Linked DNA regions of Homo sapiens: regions 2 and 3 are each linked to region 1. The links come from fine-mapping of genetic effects on gene expression. A gene starts in region 1. Each other region holds a variant in brackets. All regions are shown on one strand. Distances are between the middles of the regions.

Region 1 (8,185 bases):
GGATTTCAGCCAGTATTTTGGTAAGTTACAATTAATAAAAATGTAGGTTTGATAAACTACATTTATTGCAACCAACAGCGATTTATTAACTACCCTAGAGATGCTGTTAAAAGAATAGCTGAGCAATTAGGGGCTACTAGCCAGATGGCTTGGGAAAATAGGATAGCCTGAGACATGATATTAGCAGAAAGAGGAGGAGTTTGCATCATGATTAAAACTCAGTGTTGTACCTTCATCCCAAACAATACCGCCCCTAATGGAAGTATAACAAAGGCATTGCAAGGTCTGACTGCTCTGTCCAGTGAGTTAGCCAGCAACTAAGGGTAAATGGGCCCTTTACAGGATGCCTAGAAAAGTGGTTTGGTAAATGGAAAGGAATAATAGCCTCAATTCTTAACTTCCCTTGCAGCCGTAATGGGTGTACTTACTCTTGTTGGGTGCTGTATCATACCATACATCTGTGGGTTGGTGCAGAGGCTCATAGAAATGGCACTTACTAAATCCTCCCTTAACTATCCTCCACCTTATCCAGAGAAGCTTATTCTTTTGGAAAATCAAGCAGAACAACTAAGCCAAGACATGTTAAAGAAGTTTGAAGAGAAAGAGCTGTAAGGAAATGCAAGAGGAGGAGTTGTTAGATATGAGTTCTAAATTTCTTTTAAAAGAATCAGTATGTCAGTGTATTCAATTCTTTGCCTTCTACTTTGAAACTTAACTTCCTCGTAAAGCAACCTTTTCCGATTACCTGCTCCACCCTGTCTCATTCTGATTACCTGCTCATTCTCTACCCTGGCTCATTCCGATGTCCTCTCTGTCATAACCATTTTTCCTGCCAAACCACTCACCCTGTCACTCTCTTTAAATTAGCCAACTGGAATTAGTTTAACCTGTGTGGACTAACCCTAGGCAATAGGGGAATGACACAGCAGCAGGGGCCACATGCATCAGGAATAAGGACCCCTTCCCCTCCCTTGTCCGGGTGTGCGCTCACCATTGCTCCATCTGTGAGAGTGCAACCTTCTATAGAAGTAAACTGCGTTGCTGAGAAGAAAAAAAAATTTTATATTCGAGTGCTATTTCTTCTGTGGCACCAAAACTTTATTTATAACAGAAACCAAGCTGTCAGAGCTCTGGAACCATAGCTGTCTGCTAGGTGTCTCTAGCCATAGTTTTGCTTCCCCTTCACAGATGCAGTTTGTCTAAAATTGAAGCCATAACCCCTCCAAAGCCACTCTTTCTCCACTATTTATTTTGATGAATGGCCCATCGTAATCTAGATTTTCAAATCAAAATATAGGATTATTTCAGTTGCTCTTTTCTCATATCTACATCTAATTAATCAAAAAGACTAGTTCTGAAGCAGGAAATTTTCCTGACCCCTTCATGGGTGGGGGCAGGAACTGGAGCACATAGGATCTAGAACTAGCTGGCCGCTTTGGGTCTGGCAGGGGTGGACTCCATTCACTGGGTCCCACTGCGTTCCACAGGAACGGGGAGCACAGGTGAGTGGGTGCAGGAGCTGGGGCCAGTGCATGCAGGAGCAAAACTCTATGTGGCCCTTGGCAGTGTCTAGAGGGGTACCTAAGGCCCCTGAAGCCCCAGAGGGTGTGTGTTACAGTGCTCTTTTAACTTTGCCATCCACTGATGGCTTAAATGTTAAACAGCTCAGTAGGCCCTCTGTTTTTTGGTGTGAGGCACTTGCTCTCTGCCAGTGAGGGCAGAGGGTCAGTGTGACAGCCTTTAGTGTCACACCTGTGGCACCTGAGCTCTTGTTTGGCATCCAGGAAAAATCAGGTCACAGGAACAAATTGAATAATGGTGAATGCAGAGGATTTTATTGCCGATGAGAGTGGCTGTCAATGGGAAGGGGAGCTGAAAAGGGGATGGAGTGAGAAGGTGATCTTCCCCAGGAGCAACGCCATTAAGCCATACCTCTGAAGTCGAGCTGTTTCTTCTCTCCTCTCCTCTCTGCCATTGGAGCCTGGGGTTTTTATGGGCACAGGATGGGGGGCAGGGGGACCATAGGTGGTTTTGGAAAAGGCAACATTCAAGAGGGAAAACAGGGATGCATGTTCTCACTTTGGGCTGTGTTTTCAGGCTTGAGGTTGGAGCCCTCACTGGGGACCTGCCCTCTTCTGCCCAGAATTTCCCTGCCTTCTATCCCTGTCAGTTCCATTTGCAAATACAGTTTATCTCAACATTTCTTCTTCAACATTTCCTCTGCCTTACTTCTGGTTTCCATAATTTCCCCCAAATCTTTTCTATGTTCTCCTTGCCCACCTCTAATTATTGGGGGAACCTGCCCCCAATATTTCAACATAGGTTCTTTCTATTTTCCATAAGTGTCAGTCAGCTGAGAAATAGAGAAAGAGTACAAAGGGAGGAATTTTACAGCTGGGCTGCCGGGGGTGACATCACATATCAGTAGGACCGTGATGCCCACCTGAGCCTCAAACCAGCAAGTTTTTTATTAAGGGTTGCAAAAGGGAAGGGGGTGTAAGAACAGAGAGTAGGTACAAACATCACATGCTTCAAAGGGCAAAAAGCAGAACAAAGATCATATGCTTCTGAGGGAACAGGACAAAGGGCAAAAGCAGAACTACTAATAAGGGTCCAACAAAGATCACAAGACAAAGGGCAAAAGCAGAGCTACTGATAAGGGTCTATGTTCAGCAGTGCATGTATTATCTTGATAAACATCTTAAACAACAGAAACAGGGTTCGAGAGCAGACAACTGGTCTGACCACAAATTTACCAGGGCCGGGTTTTTCCCCACCGTAGTAAGCCTGAGGGTACTGCAGGAGACCAGGGCATATCTCAGTCCTTATCTCAACCACATAAGACAGAGCAGCCGTTTATAGACCTCCCCCCAGGAATGCATTCCTTTACCAGGGTATTAATATTAATATTCCTTGCTAGGAAAAGAATTTAGTGATATCTTCCCTACTTGCACGTCCGTTTATAGGCTCTCTGCAAGAAGAAAAATATGGCTGTTTTTGCCCAACCCCGCAGGCAGTCAGCCCATATGGTTGACTTCCCTTGTTCCCTAAAAATTGCTGTTATTCTGTTCTTTTTCAAGGTGCACTGATTTCATATTGTTCAAACACACATGTTTTACAATCAATTTGTACAGTTAACACAATTATCACAGTGGTCCTGAGGTGACGTACACCTTCAGCTTACGAAGATAACAGGATTAAGAGATTAAAGTAAAGACAGGCATAAGAAATTATAAAAGTATTATTTGGGAACTGATAAATGTCCGTGAAATCTTCACAATTTATGTTCCTCTGCTGCGGCTCTAGCAGGTCCCTCTGTTTGGGGTCCATGACTTCCCGCAACATCCAATCAATCCTCCATAATGGGCAAAGTGATCTTTCCATAGTGTAAATGTGTTCCCACCACTCTCTGGAGTAATCCTACTTAAAACCGTTTTCAGCACAAAATTCAAACATCTAAACATGATCTTGCTGGCTTTGCTTTTGTGGCTTTACCCTCTTTCTCCCCAAACCTAGCTAGTGTTTGTGCTGCCTGTAATGCCCTTCTTTCTTTGCAGGGGTCGCCACTTTAGGTCCTGGTCCTCCTTCAGAAAGTTTTTCCTCTTTCTCCCCAGCGGGGATAGGGTCTGTTTATTTTGACACCATTAGCTCACTTACACACATTGGTCACAAGTCTAGGCTGCACCGTTATTGAAAGTTTACCATCTGACTCTGAGTAGCTTGAGGATCCTATCAAAACTCAGGAGATGCTCAGTAAATGTTGATTGAACTATGACTGTTCTCAACATACAAACGCAAGATCATTTAGGAACACTTGTCAAAATGTTTTTGCCCCTTGAGATTCTATTTTGGGAGGTAAGCAGTGGGGGTCCAGGACTCTGCATTTTGACAGTCCCCTGATGTTTGCATGTAGAAGTGCAGGGATTATTACACTGACAAATCTTTACCATCCCTAAGGGGGACTTTCCTTCCCAGGGGCTATCTCTGGAAGCCCCTCAAGGATAGGGGCCGCATGCTGTTTCTCTAGGTCAGCAACTAAACCCAGAAAACGTTTATTGAGTGAATGATGAAACGACAGGTGAATAGATGAACGCAAGGTGTCGAGTTAACTATTCTTCTACACAAGTCCTAGCAGCTCCCATTGCTTCCAGCCGCAGAAATGGCCCCTGGAAGGCAAGTCTTCCAGCGAGTGGAGTCACTCTTAACTACATTTCCCAGGATTCCAAGGGAGCCGCGCGCTCTGCGCTCATCTTCCTACCAGAAATCGGCAAGTCACTGACCCTCGTCCCGCCCCCGCCATTCCCCGCCTCCTCCTGTCCCGCAGTCGGCGTCCAGCGGCTCTGCTTGTTCGTGTGTGTGTCGTTGCAGGCCTTATTCATGGGCTCACCGCTGAGGTTCGACGGGCGGGTGGTACTGGTCACCGGCGCGGGGGCAGGTGAGCATGCGAAGGTTGGAGGCCGCGCCCCTTGCTGAGGCGCAGCTGGCTGCTCTTTTCGGGCCGGCATACGCGCGCAGCCGCAGCTGAGGTCACCCCGCTGAGGTGGTGGGGAGGGGAATGGTTATTCTTGAGGCACCGCATCTCTTGAGGAGGAAAGAGCCGGAAACACCTGGTCTCTCAAGCAGGTACAGCCCGCTTCTCCCCAGCACCCCGGTGTGGGCTTCCCAAGGTCCTGCCTGAGAGGAGAGGCCAGGCTGGGCTGCTGATTGCAAAACTGGGTGAAAGTTCTCCCTGACCCTTATCTGTGGGCATCGATTGTTACTCTTCCTGCAATTAACTCTCTTAGATCTTTGCCTAGTCTTTTAAAGGACTGAAAAGCCGCGAGGGGCGGGGGCTGGAATTCGCCCCCTGAAGCGCAGAGATGTCAGCTCCTGAAAAGTCATTCGGTCGTTCAGTGTTTGTTTCCCTCTGTCGTAAGATTTTAAGTTCGTGAGAGGACCTTCTTTAAAGAGGGCGTCTGATAAGAGCCCTTCCCCGTTGGAGTTTGTATGCTTAGCAAGTCACAATCTGTTCTCGAAATCCACTGGAGTCTTGGCAGAGGTTGTAAGCTCAAATGCGCACAGGGGTCAGGCGTATGATGGAGAAAGAAAATGGGAGTAGGATGGGCACATCTGAGGAACTGGAGAGCAGAGAATTCCGAAGTGGACCGGCCAGTGGGAAAGTTGCCTGTATTTCAGGAGCGGCAAAATGGAAAATTGTTATGTGAAATAGCCCCATTTTTTAAAGTACAAAAAATTAAAACAAACCATTCATACCAACATAGATGCTGTGCAGTGAGATTTTACATTAGTTTCTCACCAGTGGGTGACCTCTGTAACCTCCAAGTGCAGGGATCTTGACATTATGCACCTTTGATTCTCCACTGGTAGTACCTTATACCTGGAAAGGCCCTAATGCATGAATTATTTGAGTTATATATTAAACGTTACAAACTGGAATTCTGTCAATTAATTCCTATGTACTTTCATATCTGTATTGATAAAGTGGCTTCTTATGCTGCCTTTCAGAAAATGCTTTCAGTGTTGATGAATAGCCAAGTATTTTATACCCATAGCTGTCTGGTTATCTCTGCATGGGCATGTATTTGGGTGTAGTCATACCTTCTAAATGTTTTTAGGAAAACATTTTGTTTACACTTTGCTTTTATTGTAAATAATGTATTTTACAACGCTTGGTGTTTTAAATCTTTTTTGACAGCTCTTGGATAATTTTCATGCAGGAGGTCCAGGGATTACATTCTAAGACGTTTTTGCCATCGCTAAGGAGACTTTCCTTTTCAGGGGCTATATCTGAAAATCATTCAAGGATAGGGACTGCTTCTTTTGACACCATTAGCATACTTACACATGGTATGCAGTACATTTTACACCAGTACTCAGTACACTTACACAAGCACATACATCTGTATTTAAAACCAGTTCATGATATAGTGTGTAGTACAGGCAATGCATCCTGAAATTTATTTTCTATTCTGTTTTATTTATAAATTGTAATTGTAACCCACAAAATTGATTTTGTGAAACAATGAGTTGTGACTAGACAGTTATGAACTTAGCACCTGCTGTTCATAAACTGGTTAAATTCTCTCTTACCCATTCAGAGTTGATTAAATTTTTTTTTTTTTTCAGAGCTAAAGGTTTTACTCTGTACCCAGGCTGGAGTGCAGTGACCCGATCATGGCTCACTGTAACCTTGAACTCCTGGGCTCAAGTGATCCTTTTGCATCAGCTTCCAGACTAGCTAGGACTGTAGGCATGTGCCACCACGCCCAGCTAATTTTTAAATGTTTTCAAGAGATGGAGTCTCGCTTTGTTGCCCAGGCTGGTCTCAAACTCCTGGCCTCAAGTGATCCTTCTGCTTGGATTAAATTCTAAAATAAGTTATTTGGTGAAATTTCCTAGTTTTGGAAAACTGTATATTTTTGGTTCTTTTTGTTTTTGTTTGAGAGGGAGTTTTGCTCTGTTGCCGAGGCTGGAGTGCAGTGACATGATCTTGGCTGACTGCAACCTCTGCCTTCCGGGTTCAAACAATTCTCCTACCTCAGCCTCCCAAGTAGCTGGGGGTACAGGTGCACACCACCAAGCCCAGCTGATTTTTGTGGTTTGAATAGAGACGGGGTTTCACCCTGTTGGCCAGGCTGGTCTTGAACTCCAGACCTCAAATGATCCGCCCACCTCTGTCTCATAAAGTGTTGGGATTACAGATGTGTGTCACTACTCCTGGCCTTGGGTTGTTTTTGGAAGGGGCTAATAATTTATGTATCTCAGTTTGTTATTTGTATACTTATTGATTAATTTATACTAAATATAAATTGTTAATTAAATTTATTCATTTGTCAATGAAATTTATCAATTAACTTAAAATGTAAAAAATATACACATATTAAAAAATGTAAACAATACAGAAAAACAATCCAGAAGTAAGCCTTCCACCCCTTATTGCTAGCCACATAGTTCTGTCCTCCAGAGGTAACCACTAATTGCCAGTTTCTAATGTGTTTTTCCCGAGATACTCTATGCCTATAAAACTTCTCTCTTGGCTGGGGATGGTGGTGGCTCACGCCTGTAATCCCAGCACTTTGGGAGGCCGAGGTGGGCTGATCACGAGGTCAAGAGATCGAGACCATCCTGGCCAACATGGTGAAACCCCATCTCTACTAAAAATACAAAAATTAGCTGGGCGTGGTGGCGGGCGCCTGTAGTCCCAGCTACTCGCGAGGCTGAGGCAGGACAATCACCTGAACCTGGGAGGTGGAGGTTGCAGTGAGCCGAGATCATGCCACTGCACTCCAGCCTGGGCGACAGAGTGAGACTGGATCTCAAAAAAAAAGAAAAAAAGCAAAACTTTCTCTCTCTCTCTCTCTCTCTCTCTCTATATATATATATATAATTTCTTTTTGGATATATAAATTTACACCTTGTAGCTTTGAGTCAGAATTAAATATTTTCTGTATTTGATGACTGTGTAGTCAGGGTTCACTGTGGGATACAGAAACCACTAGATATTTTAAGCAGCAAAGGATTCAATACAGGCAATTAGGTTTTAGGCAGGTCTTCTTAGAATAACTCCTGAAACAATAGGAAATTGATCCATTAGAGGAGGCAATACCTCTGAGGCTGTCATTGGAGCTGTGCCACAGCCCAAGTAGCACTGGCACTAGGGACCTGAAGTATGGAAGCTGCCATCCAGGGATTAGGGAGCTGAATGAAGAAGTCGCTGCTATAGTCAGTTTCTGAATACCTAGGAACTTTCAAGAAAACTAGCTTCTTAACAACAACAGCCAGAACTCCCAGTAAGGTGGTCTCTGTCTCACTTACACCTTCTAAGTTTTATGCAGATGCATCAGATGGTGGAACCCAATTCACAGCATCCTAGCAGCTAAGTAGAATGGTAGGAAGTGGTAGTAGAATAGGTGGAAAAATACAGTTTTAAGCTTTCCAGCCTCTGCAAGCAGAAGAGAGTGGATAGGTTGAGAATGTCAGTGATAGGATAGGTTGAGAGTATCATTAAAATGTAATTAATTGTTCACCAATTTCTTTAAATGGGGATTGAGTTGAGCGGACCAAAAAAATTATGCTGACATTTCTTCAACTTTCTGATTATTTTGTTTTTGATTAGGATTGGGCCGAGCCTATGCCCTGGCTTTTGCAGAAAGAGGAGCGTTAGTTGTTGGTAAGTTGGTGTGTT
Region 2 (8,185 bases), 100 kb after region 1:
ATAAATCTCTGCTTTTGTTGCTTCATTTTTTCCTTGCTTTGTGCATTTTGTCCAATTCTTTGTTCAAAACGCCAAGTACCTGGACACCCTCCACTGGTAACAATAGTACAACGTTAATTATTCAGGAGGTGGTTATAGAGGTGCTTAGTGTAAAATTCTTTCAGGTTTACTGTATTTTCAAACATTTTTGCAATTTAAATATTGGGAAAATACAATAGTGACATAAAAAAAGAAAATTCAACTATATGCTATAAAATAATACACACCTAAAGCAGAATGACGGAGAAAGATTTTTCACTATAGGAAAAATGTATCCCAACACATTATGTCGTTAGCAAAGATTACCGTGGCAGTTAGGGTATGGTGATTATAGTGGAGGGGAGAGGAGTGGAGGGAGAAAGGGAGACCAAGCAAAAGGAGAAGGAAAAAGGTATATTAACAAAGCTTGCATATTATTACATTTATTTTATAAAATTATGTCTGCATACGGGAATATATGGAAATGGTATAACACTGCAGGATACAGTTAAAGCAGTAATCAAAGGAAAATTTCATAGTTTAAAATTCTTATACTAATTATAGGAATATAAATAAATGAATTAAGCATTCAACTTAGTAAGTTAGAAAAACAACAAACCCAAAGAAAGCGGAGCAAAGGAATTATTTATAATAAAAGCAGAAAAAGAAGAGAGTTGAAAATAAAAAATCTAGCGTAAATAAATAATTAAATGAACAAACAAATCAACAGGCTGATCTTTACAAAGTGTAATAAATAGCTAACTCACAATCTTACCTAATTAATTTTTAAAAAGGAGAGTATTTTGCTTAACTGTATGCCAATGAACTTCAAATGCTGTATAAATTTAATGATTTTTTTACATCATTGACACAAAATAGAAAATCTAAACAGATGGCTTGACATAAAAGAATTTGAGGCTGGCCATTGTGGCTCGCACCTGTAATCCCAGCACTTTGGGAGGCTGAGGTGGGAGGATCATTTGAATCCAGGAATTCAAGACCAGCCTAGGCAACATAGTGAAACTCTTTTCTCCAAAAAATGAAAAAAATTGCCAGCCTGGCACATGCCTGTAGTCCTAGCTACTGGGGAAGCTGAGGCAGGTGGATCAATTGAGCCCAGGAGGTGGAGGCTGCAGTGAGTTGTAATCATGCCGTTGCACCCCAACCCATGATAGAGTGAGACCCTGTCTCAAGAAGAAGAAAAATAGAATTTGAGAAAGTTTGAGAAACGACTATTCTCCCTGAGTTCCTAAGCCTCAGATTCACATGTGAATTCAGCCAAACCCTTAATGAACAGAAAATGCCAATCTTACTTCTGTTGTTCTGGAGGGCACGGAATGAGAGCTGCCATGTTTGTCCATTAAGTTGATATAATAACAATACTAAAACTTCAAAGGTGACAGAATCAAAAGAAAGTATGGACTAATGGCCTTTAAAAAAAGTGTCTAATAGCACATTAAAAGCGTACCCCTTATGGTTCAATATTAGAAACTCCATTAATAGGATTAATCACATTAATAGATTGCGATGCAGAGTACTAACCGCTATTTGATCATGGTGAGCTACTGGGGACAAGGAGAAAAATTTATATTATCTCCATAGATTTGGAAAAAGCACTTAAAATTCAGCATCATTTGCTTTTAATTTAATTTTATTTTAAGTTCTGGAATACATATGCAGGACGTGCAGGTTCGTTACATAGGTAAACATGTGCCATGGTGGTTTGCTGCACCTATCAACCCATCACCTAGGTATGAAGCCCAGCATGCATTAGCTATTTTTCCTGATGCTCTCCCTCTACCTGCCTCCCCTGACAAGCCTCAGTTTGTGTTGTTCCCCTCCCTGTGTTCATATGTTCTCATTGTTCAGCTCCCACTTACAGGTGAGAACATGCGGTGTTTGGTTTTCTCTTCCTGTGTTATTTGCTGAGGATAATGGCTTTCAACTCCATCCATGTCCTTGCGAAGGACATGATCTCATTCCTTTTTATGGCTGCATAGTATTCCATTGTGTATATATGCCATATTTTCTTTATCCAGTCTATAATTGATGGGCATTTTGGTTGATTTCATGTCTTTGCTATTGTGAATAGCGCCGCAATGAACATAAATGTGCACAGATAATAGAATGATTTATATTCCTTGGGGTATATACCCAGTAATGGCATTGCTGGGTCAAATGGTGTTTATGGTTTTAGGTCTTTAAGAAATCACCACACTGTCTTCCCCTATGGTTGAACTAATTTACGCTCCCACCAACAGTGTAAAAGCCTTCCTATTTCTCCACAGCCTCCCCAGCATCTGTTGTTTCTTGACTTTTTAATAATCACAATTCTAACTGTTGTGAGATGGTATCTCATTGTGGTTTTGATTTGCATTTCTCTAATGATCAGTGATGCTGAGCTTTTTTGCATGTTTGTTGGCCCCATGTATGTCTTCTTTTGAAAAGTATCTATTCATATCCTTTGCCCACTTTTTGATGGAGTTGTTTTTTTCTTGTAAATTTGCTTAAGTTCCTTATAGATTCTGGATATTAGACCTTTGTCAAATGGAGCGATTGCAAAAATTTTCTCCCATTCTGTAGGTTGTCTGTTCACTCTGATGATAGTTTCTTTTGCTGTGCAGAAGCTCATTAGTTTAATTGGATTCCATTCATCAATTTTTACTTTTGTTGCAATTGCTTTTGGTGTTTTCATCATGAAATCCTTGCCTGTGCCTCTGTTCTGAATGGTATTGCCTAGATTTTCTTTAGGGTTTTTATAGTTTGGGTTTTGATATTTAAGTCTTTAATCCATCTTGAGTTGATTTTTATATAAGGTGTAAGAAAGGGGTCCAGTTTCCATTTTCTACATATGGCTAGCCAGCACCCCCAGCACCGTTTGTTAAATAGGGAATCTTTTCCCCATTGCTTGTTTTTCTCAGGTTTGTCGAAGATCAAATGGTTATAGATGTGTGGTCTTATTACTGAGGTCTCTATTCTCTTCCATTGGTCTATGTATCTGTTTTGGTACCAGTACCATGCTGTTGTGATCAGGTTCATGTTTGCCTTGTAGTGTAGTTTGAAATCAGGTAACATGATGCCTCCAGCATCTCTTTGCTTAGGGTTGTCTTGGCTATACGGGCTCTTTTCTGGTTCTATATGAATTTTAAAGTAGTTTTTCCTAATCCTGTGATGAATGTCAATGGTAGTTGAATGGGAGTAGCATTAAATCTATAAATTACTTTGTTCGGTATGACCATTTTCACAATATTCATTCTTTGTATCCATGGGCATAGGATGTTTTTCAATTTGTTTGTGTCCCCTCTTATTTCAAAGCAAATACTTATTACAAAGCAGTGCTTATTACAAAGCAGTGCTTTGTAATTCTTCGTGAAGAGTTCCTTCATATCCCTTGTTAGCTGTATTCCTAGGTATTTTATTCTCTTTGTAACAATTGTGAATGAGAGTTAAGTCATGATTTGGCTCTCTGCTTGTCTTTTGTTGGTGTATAGGAATGCTTGTGATTTTTGCATGTTGATTTTGTATCCTGAGACTTCGCTGAAGTTGCTTATCAGCCTAAGGAGCTTTTGGGCCGAGACAATGGGATTTTCTGATATATGATCATGTCATCCGCAAAAGAGAGAGTTTGACTTTCTCTCTTCCTATTCGACTCCTTCCTTCCTTCTTTCCTTCCTTCCTTCCTTCCTTTTTTCTCTTTCTTTCTTTCTTTTTCTTTCT[C/T]TCTCTCTCTCTTTCTTTCTTTTCTCTCTCTCTCTTACTCTCTTTCTTTCTTAGTGTCTCACTCTGTCATCCAGGCTGGAGTCCAGTGGCATGATATTGGCTCACTGCAACCTCTGCCTCCTGGGTTCAAGTGATCCTCCTGCCTCAGCCTCCTGAGTAGCTGGGACTACAGGCATGTGCCACCACGCCCAGCTAATTTTTGCATTTTTGGGAGAGACACGGTTTTGCCATGTTGCTCAGGCTGGTCTTGAACTCCTGGGCTCACGTGATCTGCCCACCATGGCCTCCCAAACTGCTGAGATTACAGACATGAACTACCGTGCCCATCCTGAATACCCTTTATTTCTTTCTCTTGCCTGATTGCCCTGGCCAGAACTTCCAATACTATGTTGAATAGGAGTGGTGAGAGAGGGCATTCTTGTCTTGTGTTGGTTTTCAAAGGGAATGCGTCCAGTTATTGCCTATTCAGTATGATATTGGCTGTGGGTTTGTCATAAATGTCTCTCATTATTTTGAGATACGTTCCATCAATACTTAGTTTATTGAGAGTTTTTAACATGAAGAGATGTTGAATTAGGCCTTTTCTGTGTCTATTGAGATAATCTTGTGGTTTTTGTCTTTAGTTCTGTTTATGTGATGAATTACGTTTATTGATTTGCCTGTTGAACAAACCTTGCATCCCAGGGATGAAACCAACTTGATCGTGGTGGATAAGCTTCTGGATGTGCTGCCAGATTCGATTTGTCAGTATTTTTTGCATCAATGTTCATCAGGGATAGTGGCCTGAAGTTTTCTTTTTTTGTTGCTGATAAAGACATTTAATGTGATAGGTATAAAGGGATACTTCTTTAACCTAAGTTGAGTGATTGTTCTATCTCTCCCTTGTCCTTTAATGGTAAAATACAAAGGACATTTCATTATAGACAGGAAGATAAGTCCACTGTCACCACTACTATTTAACATTGTCCTCGTGGCACTCGTGAGTACAAGTGGGAAAGGGAAAGGAAACAGATATATAAATAGACATGTACTAAAATCAGAGTCAGGGATTGCACTGAGTGATACAAGCATGCTGGAAAGCCTGAGTCAGGGATGGTGTTCAGGGACCCTAGGGTACTGACACATGAGGTTGTGTTCTAACTGATATATTTGTTAATATTCTAACATTCTATTACATGATTTCTCTTTCTTTTCTTTTTTCTTTCTTTCTCTTTTTTTCTTTTTCTCTCTTTCTTTTATACAAACACAATTATTTATTAATCAAAGCCATATTTCTATGGCTATATTTACATGTAATAAAGGGATAAAGCATGGACTGGAGAGGGTTCTAATTAAACCAACACTTTGAAATAGTTGCATGTAAAATGTTTTTGATAAAGGTAATTGAATACAGTAATGACAAAAAAAGCAGTAGTAAGGGGATTTGTCCATTGAACTGAGCTTGTTCATTCTGATAACTAATTCTTGTCCAAAGTGATGATGGAGTTTTTATTCTACTTTTTCATAGATCTGAGTACAGGTGACATTGTTTATGATGCAGTCCACCACTAATTTCCTGTCTTTCAATTTTCTTATTTTGCCTTCCTTTCCATTCCACTTCTGATGTCGAACCAATGTGCCATATGTAAAGGTGCAGTCTGAGTTTTTCTGCCGTCACCTGTAGTTTCTTTGAATTTCCCTCCCCTGAGTGTGAGAAAACTGTATGATTTTAAAGTACTCTCCATTTTTATGGTGAGGTTTTTGCCATCAAAAAAGCTAATACAATCTTTTTTGGCCATAGCACCCTTTTTTTCGCAGAGGGCTAGTCCCACTCCTAGTTCCTTCATGTATTTATTATTCATCAAAGCCTTTGCTGTCCATCAGGTGCCCTCTTTCTTCCAGTTGCTGAACAGTGTCCATGGTGGGTGTCAGAAGGTGTGTGGAGTGAGCAGAGCAGGGTCCAGCATGGGAAACATGCTGTGCCCTCTTACATGATGTTATAAGGAAAGAATAGAAGGGCAATGGCATGACAAGAGTGTGGCTGTGTCCTCAGATGCTTCAGGATCCTTCCTGTGTGGACTCTGTCCCTGGATATGGTGCCCACCTTAGGGAGCTAGAGGCTGGGAAGAGGTCCAGCAGTCACCTGCATCTGCTACTGTTCTGTGTGGACACTTTGATCCTGTTAGTTATTATATAGTTATTTCTTGTTTAATTAGAAGGCAAATATTCCAGTTTCATAGTAGACATGTTTGTGGTCCTAAATATATAACCAACTAAAACACAATTGTTGGCCAAAATAAAAAAAATCACTCCAGAAATGTGTAGAATGATGCAATTCATGTAAAAATTTAAAAACATTATACTTTCTATGGCTATATTTACATGTAATAAAGGGATAAAGCATGGACTGGAGAGGATCCACACCTGCTTCATGAGAGTGGTTGCTTCTGTTGAATGAGCGTGCAGAAGTTATCAAAGATGATTTCGGTGTATCTGTAAGGTTTCATTTTCTTCATCTAAACTATATTCATTAATTTAACTTTTTGCTTTGATTTTATTTCTTACATTTCCTTTATTCATGTTTCATTTGGAATCTTTGTCCCTCTGTATCATATAGGTAGAAACCCTCTGTATCATAATAATTTGATTATTTTTACTTCATTATCTATCACTTTAATAATGGTCAACAGGGGCCTGACAGAGGAGCTGAGGTAGCTCCCACCCTTCACCCTGATAAAACCTCAGCACATCTCACTGAGAGCTCCCCCGGCCACCTTCATCAAGCCTGGGACCTCTGCCAACCATTGGGTATTACATCTACACATCTGCCTTAGCTACTACCAGTGCTTACCCAAGGACACCTCCCCTAATTGGTCTAAAGCCTGAATCATCAACTCAGTAAATAAAATACTGGGGAAAAAGTAAATAAATAAATAAACTGTATACCTTGAGAGAATGAGATAAGCTTCAAGAGATCCCTGCCATTCCAACCCTATAGGAGACAGTGAACTTGCCCATGCACCAAGTATATAACTACTACAACCAGCATCTGGGAAAGCCAGTGCACAAGACTCTCTGTAACTAAGGAATTCATATAGAGTGTTCACTCTTAAAAGCACCAAGAATCAAATTAGGCTAAAATAAACTATAAGCATTAAAGTCATATGCTTAAAAAAACACAGTCCAATTAAAAATAAATTCAAGAACAATTTGAAGAAATAGTCTACCCAAGTGAGAAGGAAGCAGAAAAGTAAATCTGGCTAATATGACAAAACAGAGTTCTATAACACCCCCCAAAATATCACACTAGCTCTCCAGCAATGGATCCAAATCAAGAACAAATCTCTGAAATGCCAGATAAAGACTTCAGAAGGTTGATTATTAAGCTACTCAACGAGGTACCAGAAAAAGGTGAAAACCAACATAAATAAATTTAAAAAGTCCAGGATATGAATGAAAATGTTTCCAGAGAACTAGATATCATAAAAACAATCAGAACTTCTGGAAATGAAAGACACTCTTAGGAATATATAAAATGCAGTAGAAAGTTTCAAAAATAGACTAGAACAAGAAGAAAAAGGAAAGTCAGAGCTTGAAGACAAGGCATTTGAATTAACCCAATCAGACAAAGAAAAAAGAATTTTAAAAACTGAACAAAGTCTCCAAGAAATATGGGATTATGTAAAATGGCCAAACCTAAGAATAATTGGTATTTGTTTTTTTTTTTTTTGAGATGGAGTCTCGCTCTGTCGCCCAGGCTGGAGTGCAGTGGTGTGATCTCGGCTCACTGAAAGCTCTGCCTCCCGGGTTCACGCCATTCTCAGAATAATTGGTATTTCTGAGGGAGAAGAGAAGTCTAAAAGTTTGGAAAACTTATTTGAGGGAATAATTGAGGAAAACTTCCCTGACCTTGCTAGAGATCTGGACATGTAAATACAAAAAGCTCGAAGAACACCTAGGAAATTCATTGGAAAAATATCACCATGGCACATAGTCATCAGTTTATTTAAAGTTAGGACAAAGGAAAAAATTTTAATAATTGTGAGACAAAAGCATCAGATAATCTATACTGGAAAACCTGTCAGAGTAACAACAGATTCCTCAGCAGAAACCTTATAAGCCAGAAGGGATTAGGGTCTTATCTTTAGCCTCATTAAACAAAATAATTTTCATCAAGAATTTTGTATCCAGCAAAACTAAGCTTCATAAATGAGCAGAGATAAAGTCTTTTTCAGACAAACAAATGATGTCAAACCCGCACTACAAGAAATGCTAAAAGAAGTTCTAAATCTTGAAACAAAAGTTTGAGATACACCAAAATAGAACCTCCTGAAAGCATAAATGTTATAGGGCCTATAAATTTACATTCAATGTTAATATTGAGATGTGAGGTGCTATTCTATTCATCATGTTACTTGTTACCTAGATACTTTGTTTTTTTCATTGTATTATTTTTGGGTTATGATTGGGT
Region 3 (8,185 bases), 33 kb before region 1:
TTCTTTTGGGGGGAGTCTTCTCTTGCTCTCTCATTTTCTCACCTTGAGTTGCCAGTTGCAGGCTGTGAGTGGCCTTATGGAGTGGTCCAGGTGGCAAGGAACTGATGTCTCCAGCCAACAGCCAGAAAAGACCCGGGGTCTGCCTATTGCCACAGAAGTGAACTCAGAGTGGGTCCTCCCCCAGATGAGTCTTGAAATGATTGCAGTTGAAGTGGACACCTTGATTGCCTTGTGAGACACATTTTGAGAGACTGCAAGCTTTAGGTATCTGGCTAAGCTATGCCCAAATTTCCAACCCACATAAACAGAGATAATAAAGGAGTGTTTGTGATGTAAGTGTCTAGGTTTTGGAGTGATTTGTTAAACAGCATAATAACTAATATACCTGTGAAGCCACCTCTCATATCCAAATGTTGAAGAGATTCTTTAAAACTGAGATTTAGATGAGAAAGACTAAACCGATAGTTTATACTATGAACTCTATGCATAATTAAGCATAAATATATCCAATCATCTATGAATATAAGTTATAATCACTGTGGTGTTCTAGAGTAAACTCTCCCTCCTTATGTAGGAAATTAACCTTTATTGAGCAGTTAGTATTTACTAGGCACTTAAATTATATCTTTCAGAAGGGGATTAGAGTAGGTCAATAATTTATACACGTTTATATAGATAGGGAAGGTGTTGAAATTCAAACTGAGGTGTGACTTTTAAGTAAAAGTAACTTGTATCACTCTTTCCAGAAATTTTCTTGCATTTTCTGATTCTATATTCTTTGCTCATCTATGTTAAATACTTAGGCCCCTCCCACGGTCTACAGTGGATGGGCTACTGCTTTGAATCTGAGTTGCTAATGCTAACTCCAAAGAGTTGTCATGCTGTCTATTTACAATTGTAAAAAGCTAGTTGCAGTGCAAATGTATTGTCTGTGCAAAACAGTAGTCCACTTTTTTTTTGAGGAATTTCTCCACGTTTTTGTAGGAGCTGACAGTCTTAGATCTTGCCCTAAAGAATTAGCTTATGACGGCCAGATGGGGTGGCTCACGCCTGTATTCCCAGAACTTTGGGAGGCTGAGGCGGGTGGATCATGAGGTCAGGAGATCAAGACCATCCTGGCTAACACAGTGAAACCCTGTCTCTACTAAAAATACAAAAAATTAGCCAGGTGTGGTGGTGGGTGCCTGTAGTTCCAGCTACTCGGGAGGCTGAGGCAGGAGAATGATGTGAACCTGAGAAGCGGAGCTTGCAGTGAGCTGAGATTGCACCACTGCACTCCAGCCTGGGCGACAGAGTGAGATTCCGTCTCAAAAAAAAAAAAAAAAAAAAAAAAGAATTAGCTTATGACTCAGCATTGGCTTGCCAAGACACTCCTTGGCCATAGTGATTGTATTCCAGCGAGACACTAAACAGACAATTTCTCTAGAATTTAAAAAAGTAAACCTGCTAAGGTCCTCATGATCCTCGGGAAGTTGTAGATAGTTTCCTGGGGTCTGGTCTTCTATAGTATAGAATGGATCACAGGACAATAGCAAACCTTCAAATACGTATAAAGCAAAAAAATGGAAAGAATAACAAGAGATTTAGAAAAACCCTGAATCATAGTGGGGTATTTTAAACATATTTCTGTCAGTAACTGATAGTGCAAGCAGATAAAATATCCATAAAGATACAGAAGACTTGAACAATATGATCTACAAACTTGACCTAATGACCACATATGGAACCCTGAGCCCCAAACTGCAAATACCCATTCTTTTCAAGTATACATGGAATCCCTGTTAAAATTGACAGTATGGTGGATCATAAAGCCGGCTTCCCTATATTTAAAAGGCTTGAAATCAGGGAATGTTTTTTGATAATAATGCATTAAGCTCAAAATCATTGACAAAAAGATGACTAGGAAATTTCCTTGTTTGATTTTAAGAAGATAACTTGTAAATAACTCATGCATCAAGAAAGAAATGTTAGAAGTTAGAAAACATTTTAAACTGGAAAACTGCAAAGTTTTCTAGGAAAGCATGATAGAAGGAAAAGAGAAGCAAGGCTGTAGATTGTAATGGTGGGTCATAGAGTCTAAGCAAGACAAGAAAGTAAGACAGAAAAGGGTCTGGGTATTAGGAGCGCCAAGGATGCACTGGAGGTCATGGTGCTGGAGACTTCTGCAGTGGGAGCACTTGTGCTAGAAAGGCAGGACATTCGGACATGAGATTTCAGAAGTGGTAAGGTTCTTGGTAATGAACACATTCAGGGTTGTGAGTATGGGCGAGAGTGCTAGCAGTTGTTAAATTTAAAAAGTCACTGGAAATGAGAGCATTAACTAGGATACAAAGTATTGGATGGGTCCAATTCAGTGGGTCCAATGCACATTGATTCTGAAGTCCCCAAGCAGAATAAAAGCAGTTGAGGTGGAGCGCAAGACAGCAGGAAATAAACTAAGTGATAAAAGAGGGGTTGTGAACAGGAAGTTGGAAGACTGAACGTAACAAAATGTGAAAGTGGGTGGTAAATCCCAAGTGGCTTAAGTGTCAAAGGAATAGGTGAATGAGGTAAGCCAGTTTTACTCCTAATTAACATTTCACTGGGTACATTCTGTAAAGAGAGACAAATGCTGGCAGTAGCTCAACTTTACACTGAAAGTGGTTTTCATAGTTTATACAACGCACAGATCATCCACGGCTTTCCAGTTAGAGAAACCAGCTAAGTTCTTATTCCTAAATTGCATTTTCTCAGCCTCAGCATGCAGCTTTATTTAGCATGCTTCTCCTCAGTACTCCCAAATTCTCTGCTTCCTAAGCTGATTAGCTTATTATGCAATACACATGGCTGCTTGTGGTTTCTCTAAGGGAGATACACATCATACAACTCAGGCTACACAAGCTGCCCAATATTGTGTTTTCTTTAGCATGGTGCATCTGCTTGTAATTGAGTAGGTTTTACGCTATGCAATACATGGTATTTTAAGGAGCTTAAATTGTTTTTTTAAAATTATTCATTTGTATAATTACACAAGTACATTTTCATGTGAACAAAAAAAGATAAAGTGAAAGTCTCTTTCATCACTGTCATGATCCCGAACATATCTCCAGAACTAACCACCGTTATCAGTTGGTATGCCCCTCCCTGGGCTTTTCTCTAGGCACATACATTCTTATAAGTATATGTAATGAAATTTGTGGTTTTACATATCAGATTATTTTACTCCCTGGCTTTTCAAGGGATTTCTATTATAATTAGAAGAAAATCCATACTTGTAACTATTGCCTACAAGGCTCCACACAATCTGGTCCTTGCCCACTTCTTTGACCTCCTCATGTACCAGGAAGTCAAGGTGTTTTCCCCACAGAGCTTTTGCATGTGCTTTTCATTCTGCCCAGAAGGGTCTGTCCTAATGCTTGCTTGACTGGTTCCTTGTTGACATTCAGGTCTCAGCTCAAAATTCACCTCCCTGTAAGCCTTTCCAGGATACCTTCTGTAGATTTGTACCTCCCCTCCCTGTCTC[T/A]GCTTCCAGTCTCTTTTGAATAGAATTATCCAGTTTTAGGCAAAAATCACTGGGGTTTGAATTCTCACTTCACTCTATGCTAGCAGTTATTTAACCTTTTTGTGGAAGGGTTTCTCATCTGAAAATGAGGATAATTATAAAATCTACTTTTTAGGTCGTTATGAAATCAGATAAGTTAATATTTGTAAAATACTAAGAAAGTGCCTAGAAAATAATGACATCTGTTAAATTAATAAATATCTTCCCTTAGCACTTACAGTTATCTGGAATTATTTATTTGTAGTTTATCAACTCTTTTCTCTCTAGAATATAAGATCTATAAATGCAGGGACCTTGTCTATTTTGTTTGCAGCACCAAGAACAGTGCCTGACCCATAGCAGCCCTGATATGGTTTGACTGTGTCCCCACACAAATCTCATCTTGAATTGTAGCTCCCATAATTTCCACATGTCGTGGAAGGGACTTGGTGGGAGATAATTGAATCACAGGAGCAGTTTCCCCCATACTGTTCTCCTGGTAGTGAATAAGTCTCACGAGATCTGATGGTTTTATAAGTGGGATTTCCCATGAACAAACTCTCTCTTGCCTGCCGATTTGTAAGATGTGATTTTGCTTTTCATTCACCTTCTGCCATGATTGTGAGGCCTCTCCAGCCACGTGGAACTGTGAGTCAATTAAACCTCTTTCCTTTATAATTACCCAGTCTGGGGTATGTCTTTATTAGCAGCATGAGAACAGACTAACAGAGTAAATTGGTACCAGTAGAGTGGGGCACTGCTGTAAAGACACACGAAGATGCGGAAGCGGCTTTGGAACTGGGTAACAGGCAGAGGTTGAAACAGTTTGGAGGGCTCAGAGGAAGACAGAAAAATGTAGGAAAGTTTGGAACTTCCTGGAGACTTGTTGAATGGTTTTGACCAAAATGATGATAATGATATAAACAATGAAATCCAGGCTGAGGTGGTCTCAGATGAAGATGAGAAACTTGTTGGGAACTACAGCAAAGGTCACTCTTGTTATGCTTTAGCAAAGAGACTGGTGGCATTTCGCTTCTGCCCTAGAAATCTGTGGAACTTTGAACCTAAGAGAGATGATCTGAAATTGGAACTTATGTTTAAAAGGGAAGCAGAGCATATAAGTTTGGAAAATTTGCAGCCTGACAATGAGATAGAAAAGAAAAACCCATTTTCTGAGAAGAAATTCAAGCTGGCTGCAGAATTTGTGTAAGAAATGAGGAACCAAATGTTAATCACCAAGAGAAAGAGGAAAATGTCTCCAGGGCATGTCAGAGGTCTTCACAGCAGCGTCTCTCACCACAGGCCTGGCAGCCTAGGAGGAAAAACTGGTTTTGTGGACTGGGCCCCGGGTCCCTCTGCTGTAGGCAGTCTAGGGACTTCATACCCTACCACACAGTCGCTCTAGCCATGGCTAAAAGGGGCCAAAGTATAGCTTAGGCCATGGCTTCAGAAGGTGTAAGCCCCAAGCCTTGGCAGCTTACACATGGTATTGAGCCTGAGGGTGCACAGAAGTCAAGAATTAAGGTTTAGGAATGTCTGCCTAGATTTCAGAAGATGTATGGAAACTCTGAATGTCCAGACAGATGTTTGCTGCAGGGGTGGGGACCTCATGGAGAACCTCTGCTAGAGCAGTACAGAAGAGAAAATGTGGGGTTGAGGCCCCACACAGAGCCCCCACTGGGGCACTGCCTAGTGGAGCTGTGAGAAGAGGCCACCGTCTTCCAGACCTCAGAATGGTAAGTCCACTGACACTTTGCACTGTGTGCCTGAAAAAGCCACAGACACTCAATGCCAGCCCGTGAAAGCAGCCAGGAGTGGGGCTGTACCCTGCAAAGCTGGGGCAGAGCTGCCCAAGACCATAGGAACCCACCTCTTGCATCACCATGACCTGGATGTGAGACATGGAGTCAAAGGAGATCATTTTGGAGCTTTCAGATTTGACTGCCCCTCTGGATTTTGGACTTGCATGGGTTCTGTGGCTCCTTTGTTTTAGCCAATTTCTCCAATTTGGAACAGGTGTATTTTCCCAATTCCAGTACCCCAATTGTATCTGGGAAGTAACTAACTTGCTTTTGATTTTACAGGCTCACAGGCAAAAGGGACTTGCTTGTCTCAGATGAGATTTTGGACTGTGGACTTTTGAGTTAATGCTGAAATGAGTTAAGACTTTGGGGGACTGTTGGGAAGGCATGATTGTTTTTTGTTTTTTTAAGATGGAGTCTCACTCTTTCACCCAGATTAGAGTGCAGTGACACTATCTCAGCTCACTGCAATCTCCTCCTCCCAGGTTCAAGCAATTCTCCTGCCTCAGCCTCCTGAGTAGCTGGGACTACGGTCATGCACCACCATTCCTGGCTAATTTTTGTATTTTTAATAGAGGCAGGGTTTCACCGTCTTGGCCAGGCTGGTCTAAAACTCCTATCCTCAGGCGATCCACCTACCTCAGTCTCCTAAAGAGCAGGGATTACAGGTGTGAGCCACCACACCTGGCTGGTGTGATTGGTTTTGAAATGTAAGGACATGAGATTTGGAAGGGGCCACGGGTGAAATGATATGGTTTGGCTGTGTCCCCACTCAAATCTCATGTTGAACTCTAGCTTCCATAACTCCCATGTGTCATGGGAGGGACCTGGTGGGAGATAATTGAATCATGGGGGTGGTTTTCCCCATACTGTTCTCGTGGTAGTGAATAAGTCTCACAAAATCTGATGGTTTTATAAATGGGAGTTCCCTTGCACAAGCTCTCTCTTGCCTGCCGACATATAAGATGTGGCTTTGCTCCTCATTTGCTTTCCACCATGATTGTAAGGCCTTCCCAGACATGTGGAATCATGAGTCAATTAAACCTCTTTCCTTTGTAATTACCCAGTCTTGGGTATGTCTTTATTAGCAGCATGAGGACAGACTAATACAAGCCCTTAATAAATAAAGGCTGAATGTATGCATGATGAAATCTTACCTCCTGCATAGGGATCTGTGTGCCCAAGAGATAAGTTTAAAATGGAAAACATGGTACTGCTTTTATTAAAAACACCACTTTATAAAAATGTGGAAATGTTTATTTATTTTATTTTATTTTACTTTAAGTTCTGGGATATATGTGCAGGATGTGCAGGTTTGTTACACAAGTATATGTGTGCCATGGTGTTTTGCTGCACCTGTCAACCCGTCCTCTAGGTTTTAAGCCCCACATGCATTAGGTATTTGTCCTAATGCTCTCCCTCCCCTTGCCCCCCATGCCCCAACAGGCTCCAGTGTATGATGTTTCCCTCTCTGTGTCCATGTTTTCTCATTGTTCAGCTTCTACTTATGAGTGAGAATATGCAGTGAAAGCATCACTTTTATACACTAGTCACCACTGGATGCTATCACCGTATCTTGTGCTGTTATACTAGAATGAATGCTAGCTCCTCTTGCACCTCCAAAGTGGGATGAACTCAACTGCAATTCTCTCACTTGTCTTACTTTTCCAAAGAGCACAGGATGCATAAGACCAGTGTAGCAGCAGCTACACACCCACAATACTTAGGAAACATGAGCAGCAGTTATCACAAGCAAAAATGATATTTCCCAGATCCCAGCACAATTTAGATCTTTATTGCAGTTGCCAGCCAAGCGATTTAGGATAATTTGCAGAATGGAGAAAACAGAAAAGCTTGTTTGAGCTTGTCAGGTTGCTTGCCAGGTTACCAGTCATACTGTGCCAGTTGGCCAGGGTCTGTGAGCCTAAACTCAATTGGGAAATATCTTGTGTAATAAGACTAGTTGTGTTTCTATGTACTCTTTTTTTCTTTTTTTTGACAGAGTCTTGCTCTGTCACCCAGGCTGGAATGCAGTGGCATGATCTTGGCTCACTGCAAGCTCCACCTCCTGGGTTCACCCCATTCTTCTACCTTAGCCTCCCGAGTAGCTGGGACCGCAGGTGCCTGCCACCATGCCCAGCTAATTTTTTGGACTTTTTAAGTAGAGACGGGGTTTCACTGTGTTAGCCAGGATGGTCTCGATCTCCTGACCTCGTGATCCCACCTCGGCCTCCCAGTGTGTTGGCATTACAGGTGTGAGCCACCGCGCCCGGCCCACTGTGTTGTACCTTTTGTTACCAACATAACAAGGTTTCAGAGGCCCAGTTAGGGTGCAATGACATTTGCTAGGCATCGATTAGTAACACTGACTTTGCTACTCCAAAGGATGCTTAAAAATTTCCTTCTTGCTAACATTTTCTTGCTACAGCAGGTTCAACCTGGATCATCTGTCCAAGGCTAAGGAATAAGATAAAGGAGAAAAAAATCAGAAAAAAAAATCTATGAGATTTCCACCTAGTAAGCTGAGCTTGAGAAAAAGAGCAAGTCTAAGCTCTGTTCCTGGCTCTAGCAATGGTTCTACAGTTCATGCAAAATCCAGCTGCCGTTGCAGTATAGAGCCCCTTAGAAAGCTTCTTGTGACCCCAGGAAAGGAATTTCTATCTCCATTCAAGACTTGATCCTGACTTATGCAATATGAGTTCCTGGAAAGCCTATGTTGATCCCCAGATGGATCCATTTTCTTATTAAACTCAGATACTGTGGTTTAAAAATGCTAAAGCATACTTTTGGCCTGCATAGCTGCCATCTAAAGACAGCTGCAGCTCAGTGACAGCTCAAATCAGCCATGGTAAATACAAAAGTT

What was found. PIP is the estimated chance that this variant, and not a neighbour inherited with it, causes the effect.
Region 2: its variant is fine-mapped to the expression of HSD17B4 in lung (TOPMed, PIP above 0.99).
Region 3: its variant is fine-mapped to the expression of HSD17B4 in whole blood (TOPMed, PIP 0.98).

Annotation. Positions count from the first base shown.
Region 1 is chr5:119,448,199-119,456,383 of GRCh38, forward strand. It overlaps HSD17B4 (hydroxysteroid 17-beta dehydrogenase 4), which reads left to right and starts at 4,299. Exons shown (of 24, transcript NM_000414.4): 1 at 4,299-4,435; 2 at 8,117-8,170. The coding sequence starts at 4,378. RefSeq lists an enhancer at 4,400-4,449.
Region 2 is chr5:119,550,025-119,558,209 of GRCh38, forward strand. It overlaps the pseudogene FABP5P6. Among named protein-coding and RNA genes, the nearest start is that of FAM170A, 75 kb to the right of the region's middle. The variant C/T (reference allele first, on the strand shown) is at 3,736.
Region 3 is chr5:119,415,558-119,423,742 of GRCh38, forward strand. No RefSeq gene overlaps it. Among named protein-coding and RNA genes, the nearest start is that of HSD17B4, 33 kb to the right of the region's middle. The variant T/A (reference allele first, on the strand shown) is at 3,503.